Homo sapiens: one gene and its partners. The protein of the gene in region 2 purifies or fractionates together with the protein of the main gene of each other region. This does not show direct contact. Each region holds a gene or a part of one and is shown on either strand. Other genes may lie near its edges.

Region 1 (3,500 bases), on a different chromosome or scaffold from region 2:
TCTCTACTTCAAAGGAGTTCAGAAGCTATAATAAGAGGCAAATGGGCTAATTGCTATTAGAGAGATGTGAGCAAAGTGTTATGCAAACACAGAGAAAGGAGCCATTAACCCTAACTTGAACATTTATGGAGAGTGCATCACAGAGAAGGTGGCATTTACCAGAGAGCATTGTGCACAGTGGTTTATAATGCACAAAGTGCTCTCAGGGTTCATTAATTCATTTGATCTTAAAATAGCCTTTTGAGGTAGGTGTTATTATCCCATTTTACAGATGAGGAAACAGGTTTAGAGAAAGGGAGTGAATTGCTGCAGGCCACACAACTGGTTAAGTGGCAGAGCCAGGGTTGCAACCCACACCTTCTGTCAAGTCAGAATGATCCTTGAAGAATGAGGAAGATTTGGACAGGGACTGCAGTAGAGGAGGTTCAGGAGAGGGGGAGGTACACTCCAGGCAAAGGCACCAGCATGCGCACAGGCCTAGAGATTGAAAAGTGTTCAGCCAGGTGTCACATCTGTAATCCCAGCACTTTGGAAGGCCGAAGCAAGGAGAATGCCTGAGGCCAGGAGTTCCAGACCAGCCTGGAGAACATAGCAAGACCTCGTTTCTTTTTCGCTTTTTTTTTTTTTTTTTTTTTTGAGACGGAGTCTCACTCTGTTACCCAGGCTGGGGTGCAGTGGCACAATCTCGGCTCACTGCAAGCTCCACCTCACAGGTTCATGCCATTCTCCTGCCTCAGGCTCCCGAGTAGCTGGGACTACAGGCGCCTGCCACCATGCCCGGCTAATTTTTGTATTTTTAGTAGAGACAGGGTTTCACCTTGTTAGCCAGGATGATCTCAATCTCCTGACCTCGTGATCCACCCACCTCAGCCTCCCAAAGTGCTGGGATTACAGGTGTGAGCCACTGCGCCTGGCGACCCCATTTCTTAAAAAAAACATTTTTTTTTTTAATTAGCAGGGTGTGGTGGTACACACCTATAGTCCCAGCTACTCAGGAGGCTGAGGTGGGAGGATCCTTTGATCCCAGGAGTTTGAGGCTGCAGTGAGCCATGATTGTGCCACTGCACTCCAGCCTGGTTGCCAGAGTGAGACCCTGTCTCAAGAAGGAAAAAAAAAGAAAGTGTTCAGCCTTTGGGAGCACTCCATGTTGAGAGGCTTAGGAAGGAGAAAAGGCAAGAGAGACCACAGGGATTTGATGGAGAGGCTCTGTGAATGCAGGATAGAGGGCTATGACCTGATGCTGAAGGCCGTGGGGGCCACTGAGGAGTTTTAAGGAGGAGAGAGATGTGCTTCCCTGGTGCTGGGTGGAGAATGGCTGAGTGGAGGAGGGCCATCAGTCAGGAGGCTGCTGCACACTCCACTCTCACATTTGAAAATACCCCATGAGGCACGGTGGCTCACGCCTGTAATCCCAGCACTTTGGGAGGCCAAGGCCGGTGGATCACTTGAGGTCAGGACCAGCCTGGCCAACATGGTGAAACCCCATCTCTACTAAAAATTTAAAAATTAGCTGGATGTTGTGGCGGGCGTCTGTGATCCCAGCTACTCAGGAGGCTGAGGCAGGAGAATCTCTGGAACCTGGGAGGCAGAGGTTGTAGTGAGCTGAGATCATGCCACTGCACTCCAGCCTGGGCAACAGAGTGAGACTCCGTCTCAAATAAAGAAAAAAAGAAAAGACCCCATGAGGAGCACAACCTGGGACTTGGAATCAGAGATCTGGTTTCCAGATCTAGCACTGCTTGCACTTTTTTTTTTTTTTTTTTTGAGATGGAGTCTTGCTCTATCGCCCAGGCGGGAGTGCAGTGGCGCAATCTCAGCTTACTGCAAGCTCCGCCTCCCAGGTTCACGCCATTCTCCTGCCTCAGCCTCCCAAGTAGCTGGGACTACAGGCGCCCGCCACCATGCCCGGCTAAGTTTTTGTATTTTTAGTAGAGATGGGGTTTCACTGTGTTAGCCAGGATGGTCTCAATCTCCTGACCTCGTGATCCACCCACCTCGGCCTCTCAAAGTGCTGGGATTACAGGTGTGAGCCACCGCACCCAGCCACTTATACATCTTTAAACTGTGGATCATAATGAAGTTTCCTATCTCATGGAGTTATGATGGGGTTTCAGGTTGATAATTGGGCAAGAAAGTAGTTTTTAAACCATCAAGACAAATGTTCGAGCCTGGGCAACATGGTGAAACCCCATCTCTACAAAAAAACACACAAAAAATTAGCTGGGCGTGGTGGCACACACCTGTGGTCCCAGCTACTCAGGAGGCTGAGGTGGGAAGATCGCTGGAGCCCAGGAGGCGGAGGTTGCAGTGAGCCGAGATTGCACTACTGCACTCCAGCCTGAGTTACAGAGTGAGACCCTGCCTCAAAAAGAAAAAAAAAAAAAAGGGCCAGGCGCGGTGTTTCACGCCTGTAATCCCAGCACTTTGGGAGGCCGAGGTGGGCGGATCATGAGGTCAGGAGATCAAGACCATCCTGGCTAACACGGTGAAACCCCGTCTCTACTAAAAATACAAAAAATGAGCCAGGCGTGGTGGCGGGCACCTGTAGTCCCAGCTACTTGGGAGGCTGAGGCAGGAGAATGGCGTGAACCCAGGAGGCGGAGCTTGCAGTGAGCTGAGATCGCGCCACTGCACTCTAGCCTGGGCGACAGAGCAAGACTCCATCTCAAAAAAAAAAAAAAAAGACAAATGTCAGCTTATATGAAAATAACATTTTCCCTTCAGTTGCTCCCTAGATGTGGAGAGCCCTCTCCCTCATGGAGGCTCCTTCTATAGCCCTTGGACTGGATTAACATGTCCTCCTCCTCCTCTCCCTGTACCCCTCCCTAGGAGGAGCTGGCTCTGTGTGGCTCCAGGCTGCTGGTCTTGGGCTCCTTCCTGCTTCTCTTCTGTGGCCTTCTCTGCTGTGTCACTGCTATGTGCTTCCACCCGCGCCGGGAGTCCCACTGGTCTAGAACCCGGCTCTGAGGGCACTGGCCTAGTTCCCGACTTGTTTCTCAGGTGAGGTTCTTTGCTCCAGTCCTGCGGGAGCAGGGAATGGGGTGGGGGTGGGGGTTGTAACCGGGGTAGAGCAGATCCTTGGACTTTTCCTCAAAGACTGCTGCTTCTGAGTCCCCGAGAACCTCTTCAACCACAGCTCTCCCTTAGGGACTGGGAACAATTTGACACCGTCAGCATTCAATATTTTTCTAATTACTTTAACTTTTTTATTATAAAATAGTTAACACTTATGTAGAAAAGTCCAATAGTATAAAAGGACAGCTTGGCAAATTATTATAAAGTGGATACTTATAAATACCACTGAGTAGAATATTACCAGCTGTCCAGAAACCCCCCATGGTCCCTTCCTTCCTGACAATGCCCTCTCTCTCCCTAGAAATTACTGTCCTGCTTTATAATGTATTGCCATGTATGTATTCCTAAATAATATAGTTTGGTTTTACTTATTTTTGAAACTATGTAGACAGAATCATACACATTCTTTTGTGGCTGACTTCTTT
Region 2 (3,500 bases):
CAGCCCACCTTGGTGTTGCCTGCTCAACTAGGATGTGAGCATCTCAAGGACAATGGATATTTTATAGTCGCCTAATTGGATTGGTGTTATGGAAGCTTCATAGAAAACATTACATGAAAATGTGTACTTTATAGATATATAGTCATTTTTTGTCTTTCACCTCACTGAAAGAGAAATACAGGCACCAATTGGGCCCCTCAATTGTATTTGTCCCCTGTTATTACAGTCACCCCCATCTATGTTTACCCTCGCCTCCTTCTCTGCAGTCCCAGAGGGCAGAGGGGGTGCCACTCCCCTTTCAAGGATTACCCCTTGGAGATCATCCATCCATTTCTGTCCTCTCAGGGACTTTACCCCACCAATGACTTCCCCTCTTTCTTGTATCTTTGTCCTTTTTCTCTGCATCGACTCTTTCCATCAGCAGATAAACACATGGTTGGATCTCTTTTCTCCTAAAAATCCTCCTTCTTCATTTGTTTTCTCTCCAACTAGCACCCTATTCCCTTCAGTCCACAGCCATGCTTTCTAGAAGAGTAGTTTACATGGTTTACTCCTTCACACCTTTTATGTTCAGTTCATAGCCCATTATGGATTGGTGTTCACTCTCATCATGCCAGCAGAACTGCCCAAGACATCAGGGATCCCTGGTGCTAAATCTGATGGACAGTTTTCTGTCCTTATCTGACCTGCTCCCACTTTTTGGAACTCTTTGGCTTCCATGAATTTATCCTGTTCTAATTTCCTTTGTCTGGGGGCTCCTGCTGTCCTACATGAGTTGCTCTTTCTTACTTGACCCTTTAGTATGTTGCATTCCCCAAAGCTTCTGTACTTGGCCCTTATTATCCTCACTTGAAACTCTTTTTCCTGATTGATCTCATCTTCTGTTAGGTTTCAGTGATCACTAGTAAGTTGATGATCCCCAAATATATGTATATTTTATGCCCTGTCCTCTATTCTGAATTTCAGGTCAGAACATACAAATGCCTAGTGTTTTACAGGGACTTCCCACTCAGTAAGGTCAAGATGGGACTTGACTTCTAGCCTGACTTCCTCACTGCCCTCCTCCAAGTGTGTTTATGTCAGCAAAGCCCCCACACTGTCCAAGCCAAAGTCTTGGGAGCTACCATTGATTTTTCCCTTTTCTATATTTTCTGTATCTCATTCATTCACTCAGGAAACACTAGTTGAGCATTTTCTCTGTGTCAGGCCTGTGCTTGTTTCCGAAGATCCAGATCTGCTGTCATAGAGCTTCCGGTCTATCAGGGAAGACAAATGTTAAATGAATACACATTTATTAATTAGAATTGTGCCAGAAGTTACAAAGGGTGCACAAGAAACTATGAGAGGAGCTAGTTCAGTCCCAAATCCTGTTGCTTCTGCCTTCTAAATGATTCCTTCTCAAATGTCTACACCTCTCCTCCTCACTGTTGCCATAGGCTGCCATACTGTCTGGCTTGAACGCCTACGGGAGCTTCCTTCCTAGCCTTACCTCCAGCTCACTTGCCTCCCAAGACTTCTTAGGATATATTGCATGTTCCCCAGAAAACCATTCAAGGCCCTTCCTAGCTGGGCCCCCATTCTTTTCTCTAGCCACATCCATCCTTTGTAGGATTACCTCCAGGATGAGGAGCTCTTCACCTTTAAAGATGAGCAAACTGAGGTTGGCTGCTTTAGCCAGACTTGAACTGCTGTTTTTCAGAGTCCTGAGTGATGCTGGGTGACCTGAGGGGCCAGGTGTAGAAATCTGGCATTTCTGAGCTTGGAGTAACCTTCGATCACCTACTCTCAGGGATCCCAATTGGCCTGAGTCAGGGAGTGTGTCAGCATCACCCAGGGGTTCCTAAATGTCCCATGCTTGCTGCTCCTATCCCTTCTTGGATTTTCTGGGTGGCTTAGGGATCACTGACTCAGTTGCACCCCTCTCAGCCCCCTCCTTGCCCTCAGGAGGCTGCTGTTCTGGCTTTCAACAGCCTTGGAAGCCTTGGAGCTGCTGGTTGCCCAGCCTTTTTTTTTTTTTTTTCTTTTTTAGCCTTTGGTCTTTATTTTAATTTCCCTGATGGAGGACATGGGTAAGCATTGATAGTGGAATAACGTGAGGACCTGAATTCATTCCGGAAATCTAAGTTTGGGCACAGTTGTGGATGACTTTGTACTTGGTAGGTAGAAATGGGGCCATTATCCCATTACAACAGTCTTGAATACAGGATGATATAACCTCGTAATGAAACTAAGATGTTCTCTGCTCAAAACGCCCTCAAAATGACTTGGACCTGAAGCAGCACATGACTCAACCCATCTGCTCCCTGCAGATGGCCCTGAGTGGCTTTGTCCACTGCCTCTGCAGCACCCTTGCTCAAGCTCCTCTGATGTGTGGGCCCCACCATCAGGCTCATTTAGTACTGGCTAAGGCTATCAGAGCTGACACAGAGGGGACTCTCTGTCCTCAAACCGCCCCACTCTAGCCCCTGGTAGCCTGTCACTTTCTGAATTCTCACTGTTTCTGGTTGTTCCCTGTCAAATTGCAAATGCTCCCTGAGGGGATATTTCAAAACACTAGCCATTAGCATCTCAGAGCAAATCGATTCATTTACTAATTGGAACAGCCACTGAAGGTCCAGAACACAGGCCACTGTTCTAGGGTTTCTGAAAAGTGGCCTAAGGACAACCGGCATGAAGAGTTGACTGAATCAGAACCTCAGGGCATAGGACCTGGGATTCTTGTGCTCATTAGAGTTTGAGAAGCACTGTTTGAGCAGGTCTGGCCTGGGAGGAAAGTCTGGGGCAATGAGTTTCTTGGGGTGGAGGCATTGTTTTAGTGAAGTTGAGGGTGCTTAATATAGGAGGTGGGAGAGTACAGGAGTTAGAGGCATCTGTTTCTTAAATGAACTTCCTAATTATGTGATGTAGCCCTCATCACTGGGAACACCTTCGCCTCAGCACTTGCCACTCTGCACTTGCTCACCTGGGACCTTGCCTGCTGAGCGCTGTTCTCCTCTCACCTCCTGTGTGCTTATCTTTCTATTTAGGTCCATAGGCTACCAGCTATAGGAGGCCTTTGAGGATCTCTAACCCAAATCCTTTATTTTAAGGACAAGAAAAGTGACTCTTGAAGAAGGAAAGTGAGTTTCCCCATATCACACAGTGGCATTTCTGGGATCAAGACAGGGCTTCCTGGCTTTCAATTCTATTTTCTGTTTCTCGTATCCTAGATTATCTTATTCAAGACAAAAATTATGACTTTTTTTCTCGGTGAAACAGCCACCCCAGCATTATAATGCAATGTTGGGGACATAATGAATATACAATAAATGTTTCAGAGTTAAATGGATCATGATGTGCTTGACAGCAAAGAAATATCATGGCATCAGGGAAAAACATTGAACTTGGATGTCAGGATATCTCTGTGCTGGGCTTTTCTCTATAGCCACTTACCTGTGACTCTGGATTCTAAAGTTCCAGCTTAAACATCCTATGTTAAAAGGCTACCCTAACCAGTATGG
Region 3 (2,835 bases), on a different chromosome or scaffold from region 2:
AGTGTTGGGATTACAGGCGTGAGCCACCACATCCTGCCCCCTCCCATTCATTGGTTAATGCCCTATTTCGGTGCCATCTTTGTGTCTTGGACCTTTTTTCACCAGAGAAAGGTCCTGGAGGCTCCAAGTGGGGCCCTCTCCCTCTTGGACTTGTTTTCCACCCTCTGCAATGACCTTGTCAACTCAGCCCAGGGATTTGTCTCCTCCACCTGGACATACTACTTGCAGACTGACAATGGGAAAGTGGTGGTGTTTCAGGTGAGACCTCTGACAGGGGCCACGCCAGAGTGGCAGATGGGTGGGCAGGGTAAGAAGATGGGATGCATTGGCTCTTAGCTCATGAGATGCAAAGTCCACAGTGGGCGAGCTTCAGGCACAGCTGGATCCAGGGGCTCAGTGTCTCACTCCATGCCTTGACTCTGCTTTCTTTTGTGGTGGCTTCATTCCCAGGCATTTACTTCTTCTTGGCAGTAAGGTGGATGCCAGAGGCTCTAGGTTACAAACGCTGTGGTTTTTTTTTGTTGTTGTTGTTGTTGTTTTGAGATGGACTCCCATTCTTGTTGCCCAAGATGGAGTGCAATGGCATGATCTTAGCTCACTGCAACCTCCACCTCCCAGGTTCAAGTGATTCTCCTGCTTCAGCCTCCTGAGTAGCTGGGATTACAGGCGGCCACCACCACACCCACCTAATTTTTGTATTTTTAGTGGAGACGGGGTTTCGCCATGTTGGCCAGGCTGGTCTCGAACTCCTGACCTCAGGTGTTTCACCTGCCTCGGCCTCCCAAAGTGCTGGGATTACAGGCATGAGCCACTGCCCCGGCTCCCTCTGGGGTTTTAACTGAGCTGGGATTTACTCTGATTGGCCCTGGCTGGATCATATGACCATCTCTCAGGCAATTCACTGGCTTGGTCTGGATCATGTTCCTACTTCTGGAGCTAAAGGATGGGGTTAAGGCAAATGGAGGAGCCCATGAAAGCAGAAAACAACATCCCTGACATCAAGCCCACCCCTGATACCCAGGGGAACTGGGTATCAGCTGGGCGTGGGACATGGCAGTCACAGAGGGCCTGCCTGGGCCCAGGGGTGCTGTTCTCACAAGCCTCTCTGTGCTGTCTTGTTCCTGGCCCAGACTCAGCCCATAGTGGAGAGCCTCGGCTTCCAGGGGGGCCGTCTGCAGCGCGTGGAGGTGACCTGGCGAGGCTCCCACCCTGAAGCCCTGGAGGTGCACGTGGGTAAGGTGCAACCTAGACCAGTGTTCCTTCCATGGGTGGCCCCACTGCCACAAGGAGTCGGCCTGGCAAACAGACCTTCTAGGATCGGGATCTCCATCTCTCAAGTCCTGGGTTCCATGGCTCATCCCCCAGGTCTCCATGGTCTATTTCCCAGGGTTCCATGGTCCACCTCCCAGGGTTCCATGGTCCACTTCTCAGGGTTCCGTGGTCTACTTCCCAGGGTTCCGTGGTCCATCTCCCCGGGTTCCATGGTCTATTTACCAGGGATCCGTGGTCCACCTCTCAGGGTTCCGTGGCCCACCTCCCGGGTTCCGTGGCCACCTCCCAGGGTTCCGTGTTCCGCCTCCCAGCGTTCTGTGGTCCACCTCCCAGGGATCCATGGTTCACTTTCCAGGGTTCTGTGGCCCATCTCCCTGGGTTCTGTGGCCCATCTCCCAGGGTTCCATGGTTCATCTCTCAGAGTTCCATGGGTTCATCTCCTAGGGTCATCTCCTAGGGTCCATCTCCAAGGGTTCTTTGGTCCATCTCTCAGGGTTCCATGGTTCATCTCTTAGGATTCTGCAGTTCATCTCCCAGGGTTCTGTGGCCCATCCCCCAGGGTTCTGCAGTCCATCTCCCAGGGTTCCATGGTCCATTTCCCAGGGTTCCATGTTCCATCTCCCAGGGTTCCATGTTCCATCTCCCAGGGTTCCATGGGTTCATCTCCTAAGGGTCATCTCCTAGGATCCATCTCCCAGGGTTCCATGGGTTCATCTTCTAGGGTCATCTCCTAGGGTCCATCTCCTAGAGTTCTTTGGTCTATCTCTCAGGGTTCCATGGTTCATCTCCTAGGATTCTGCAGTTCACCCCCAGGGTTGCATGGTTCATCTCCTAGGATCCATCTCCCAGGGTTCCATGGTCCCTGTCTCAGCATTCTGTGGTCCATCTCCCAGGGCTCTGATCTCCATTCCAGGACTCTATGCCCCAGGTCCTGACCTCCTCCCTCCTGGTCATGGTTATTGTGGCCTCTTAGCAAAGACCTGGTGGTCGCTGAGTGGCAGCTGATCTCTCAGACCCTGTAGGCCCCCTGGACAAGGTGAGGAAGGCCAAGATCCGAGTCAAGACCAGCAGCAAGGCCAAGGTGGAGTCTGAAGAGCCACAGGACAATGACTTCCTCAGTTGCATGTCCCGGTGGGTGGCAGGACCTTGGGGGTGGGAGGGGGGTGGGACTGGAGGTACGGGTCTCCCTGGTCCCGGCCTGGGCAGCTGAGTGGTGCCTGCCGGGCGGGGCAGGCGCTCGGGTCTGCCTCGCTGGATCCTGGCCTGCTGCCTCTTCCTCTCCGTGCTGGTGATGCTGTGGCTGAGCTGCTCCACCCTGGTGACCGCGCCTGGCCAGCACCTCAAGTTCCAGGTGGGTGGGATCTGTGAATGGCGCTGGGCCGAGGGAGGGGGTGAAGGCAGAGAGAGCTGTTTGCTGGTCCTGGATTTGGCCACCTGCTCCCATGGAGGCCAGGACCTCAGACATTTTTTTCTTTTTTCATGTATATACATATATATACATATACGTGTGTGTGTGTGTGTGTGTGTGTGTGTATATATATATATATAATATATATATATATA
Region 4 (3,500 bases), about 110 Mb from region 2:
CCCTTCCCTTTGCCCGTTAGAAGCCTAATCTAAAGCCCATTAGTTTTTATGTAACCAGAACTCTTGAGTCTTTTAAATTTTATGGTGGTTAAATTGATAAAATGAAATTTTTAAATATGAGAGACAATAATTAATATACTTCGAACATAAATAGTGGCCATATATGATTACATATGGATATCAGATAAAAGCAATATGACATAATTTTTAGTTTTTTACAGTGCTTTTACTCATGACTCTAATAAGAGAACTTGTTGAAGAAGTATTTTGCCTAGAGAAGTAATGTCTCCTATCTCATCGTTTACCACATGATAATAACTGTTATTCCCTGGAGGTTATATTGTGCTAGATATATTCTCTCACATCTTCAAACAACTTTATGAGGTTGTATTATTCCTGTTTTATTATGAGGAAGGTGAGAGTAACTTGTTGCAGTTTCACGGCCAATAAGTAACAGAATTAAGCTTCAAACCCAGGGCACTTTAGCACCAAGGCCCATATACTACCCTACCATGCTTTTAATTCAGTAGTTGAATTCCTCAAATTTACCAGTCAACAGAGTTTATGTTGTGGCACTGTCTTCCTCTCAGGTAATAAAGTAAACCTTTTAAGTACTGTAGCTAAGTAAGTGGCTTAATGTATGGCTGGTATGTGATTTTTAGCACTCCCCTGAACCTTGGGTCCCCTCTACTTAATTTGGTAATAAGTAAAACACAGGAATTTTCTCTTTAAATTCATGAACAAGTTCTAGGTCCTAAAGCTACTTACCTCAAGGCATAAGTTGACTCTCAGAGTGAAGCCCTCATTCATTCCTCATTAGATAGGAGATTAGCTCTGTGTCTCTCTAAAGTCTGTGTGAATTTGAGCATAACTGGGATGCAGAAACCCCCATTCTAGAGGATCAGAACTATACACAAGATGTAAAAAGTATGGAGTGTTTGGCTGTAATTTATGGATTCCTCATACTTAGGGAAGAATATAATGTTTCATATGAGAATAAATAGAGATAATGTGTATTTAGCCAAAAGTTTTGGCAGTCTGATAAATTATTCCTGATCAACTAGAATTAGAACTCATTTCTGCAAGGTATAGTATTTAATGTAGTATGTCATGATTTGTCCCTCTCTCCCTTTAAAAAAAAAAAAAAACAAAACAAAACGTTGTCAGGAAGTTAAACTAACATAAATCTGCCAGAAATCTGTTTCTTTGCAAGGCACTGGCTCTGATGTTTAGGAAGTGCAATTAAAATATATTGTGGTTAATGTGTTTTATTTTTTATACAGTATTTCTGCTACTTTTTCTCAATTTAAATGTTTAAAGAGATGATTTGTTTTAGAACTTGTTACTGAAAAAAGCTAAAGAAGTACAAATGACTTAATTGCTTTCATTATTATTTTAGTCTAAGCCAGAAATCCAGTACGCACCACATTTGGAGCAGGAGCCTACAAATTTGAGAGAATCATCTCTAAGCAAAATGTCCTGTAAGTTTTATTTTAAGTAGCTTAGATAAAAACATTAGCAGTCAAATCTGGTTGTAGTAGAGTTGGTCATGTTTGTTTTTACACTGATGGAACATAAACAGATAATTTCTAAAACAGTGGTTCTCAAACTTTCATGTGTATTACAGTTTGGAGAGCTTGTTCAAACACAGATTGCTGGGCCCTACCTCCAGAGTTTCTAATTTACTAGGTCTGGGAGAAGATCTGAGAATTTGTATTTCTCACAAGTTCCAGATTTTGCTGATGCTGCTGGCCTGGGGGCCACACTTTGAAAATCACTATTCTAAAAACATTTAGTTTGCTTCAAAGGATGTTTTGAGCATGAACTAATCAAATATTCTGGTATTTCCCAATAAATTGATCAAATAATGAAAAATGCCAAAAGTGAGAGTCCCCATTCTATTTTTATTTCCATGTTAGAAGTGAATTTTGACTTATAAGAACATAAAACATCAAGCTAAAGCAGAACTCACCTTGTGAAATTTCCTCATACCTTATTTTAGATACTGATTTAATTAGCCTTCTAATTATTTTGGTGGGTGGGAGTGGGTAGATAATGATAGCACATAACATAAGACCATCTTTAACTTTAATTAGATTAGAATAAACCAAATCCAAGCTCACATGTAATTAAGCAGAAAGCATCAATGTCAATAAGAATTTGAAAATAAAACAGGAAACTCATAATGTGATAGAATATTCATTTGGTTTTGATGTGCTAGAGAAACTGGTACACATTATAAAATGTATCAGATGACACAAACAAAAACAATTGGATATCTGTAAAGTGTATATATCTAGAAGTAGTCATGTGAGACTAGCTTTTGGAATATAGGATATAATAAACTCATACTTACTATTTCAGCAGATCTGCAAATGAGAAATTCACAAGCGCACAGGAATTTTCTTGAAGATGGAGAAAGTGATGGCTTTTTAAGATGCCTCTCTCTGTATGTATTCCTCTTTATTATGTGTATAACAGATAAAATCTGGCTTGTATCAGAGAGATATATTACTTTTTATTATTTTAAAATTAGCACCTCAAAAGTAAACCTTTTTACTTGTTCCTTTCCAAAGTTGTACATTAGATATTTTAGTTTGTTTAAAAGGTTGTAGGCATACTACTTGAATAAAACCCAGGCAGGTAGTTTTTTTCACAGTACAAGAGCATTTTTCTTGTTAGAATCTCTTGATTTATGTTGAATGTGCTTCTCCACACATTTAAATTAAGCTTTAATTTAACATATGTCTGAGGCCGGGCACAGTGGCTCATGCCTGTAATCCCAGCACTTTAGGAGGCCAAGGCGGGTGGATCGCCTGAGGTCAGGAGTTCGAGACCAGCCTGGCCAACATGGCGACACCCCATCTCTACTGAAAATACAAAAATTAGCCGGGCGTGGTGGTGCATGCCTGTAATCCCAGCTACTTAGGAGGATGAGGCAGGAGAATCGTTTGAACCTGGAAGGCAGAGGTTGCAGTGAGCTGAGATCACGCCACAGCACTCCAGCCTAGGTAACAGAGTGAGACTCTGTCTCAAAAAATAAAATAAATAAAATAAGTATGTTTGAATGGTTTAGGGATCAGATTTTTGTTTTTGTTTTTATCTGCATGGCCAGATTTGACGCTAGAAGAGCTGGATAAAGACTCTAGATTAAGAAGGGCTTTGTATTCTATACTAAGGAATATCAGCTCTATGCCAAGAGTTTTTAAGGGTAATGGTAAAGTGGGCAAGTGAGAGTAGGGGTACCATATGCCCTCCTAGGAAAAAATATCAAGCCTTATGAGGGTGAGAGGCAGGTTTTATGAAAGTGTGCATGTTTCCTCTTCTCCAAGGAGTTCAGATATGGTCCCTCCCCCACATTTTACTCCTCCCCACCCCCAACAAAAAAAGGAAAAAGAGAAAGATAGTGGGCCATACCACTTATTGACTATCACCTACTCGGTGTCAGATACCAGGTCAAGCATTTCAGTGAGTGGTAAACAAGTTTCTGCTTTATAGTG

What was found.
Region 1: the proteins of LRRC52 (region 2) and TMEM219 purify together in Homo sapiens (affinity purification with mass spectrometry; one large-scale study listed by BioGRID and IntAct). This does not show direct contact.
Region 3: the proteins of LRRC52 (region 2) and TMEM59L purify together in Homo sapiens (affinity purification with mass spectrometry; one large-scale study listed by BioGRID and IntAct). This does not show direct contact.
Region 4: the proteins of LRRC52 (region 2) and TMEM59 purify together in Homo sapiens (co-immunoprecipitation; one large-scale study listed by IntAct). This does not show direct contact.

Annotation. Positions count from the first base shown.
Region 1 is NC_000016.10:29,968,579-29,972,078, forward strand, and holds part of TMEM219 (insulin-like growth factor-binding protein 3 receptor isoform 1 precursor), read left to right. Parts: intron 1-2,829; coding exon 2,830-2,967; 3' UTR 2,968-3,000; intron 3,001-3,463; exon of another isoform or gene 3,464-3,500. UniProt on the Homo sapiens protein: Cell death receptor specific for IGFBP3, may mediate caspase-8-dependent apoptosis upon ligand binding.
Region 2 is NC_000001.11:165,550,500-165,553,999, reverse strand, and holds part of LRRC52 (leucine-rich repeat-containing protein 52 precursor), read right to left. Parts: intron 1-3,500. UniProt on the Homo sapiens protein: Auxiliary protein of the large-conductance, voltage and calcium-activated potassium channel (BK alpha).
Region 3 is NC_000019.10:18,615,870-18,618,704, forward strand, and holds part of TMEM59L (transmembrane protein 59-like precursor), read left to right. Parts: intron 1-105; coding exon 106-258; intron 259-1,130; coding exon 1,131-1,233; intron 1,234-2,285; coding exon 2,286-2,403; intron 2,404-2,505; coding exon 2,506-2,623; intron 2,624-2,835. UniProt on the Homo sapiens protein: Modulates the O-glycosylation and complex N-glycosylation steps occurring during the Golgi maturation of APP. Inhibits APP transport to the cell surface and further shedding.
Region 4 is NC_000001.11:54,039,705-54,043,204, reverse strand, and holds part of TMEM59 (transmembrane protein 59 isoform 2 precursor), read left to right. Parts: intron 1-1,399; coding exon 1,400-1,481; intron 1,482-2,364; coding exon of another isoform or gene 2,365-2,367; coding exon 2,368-2,449; intron 2,450-3,500.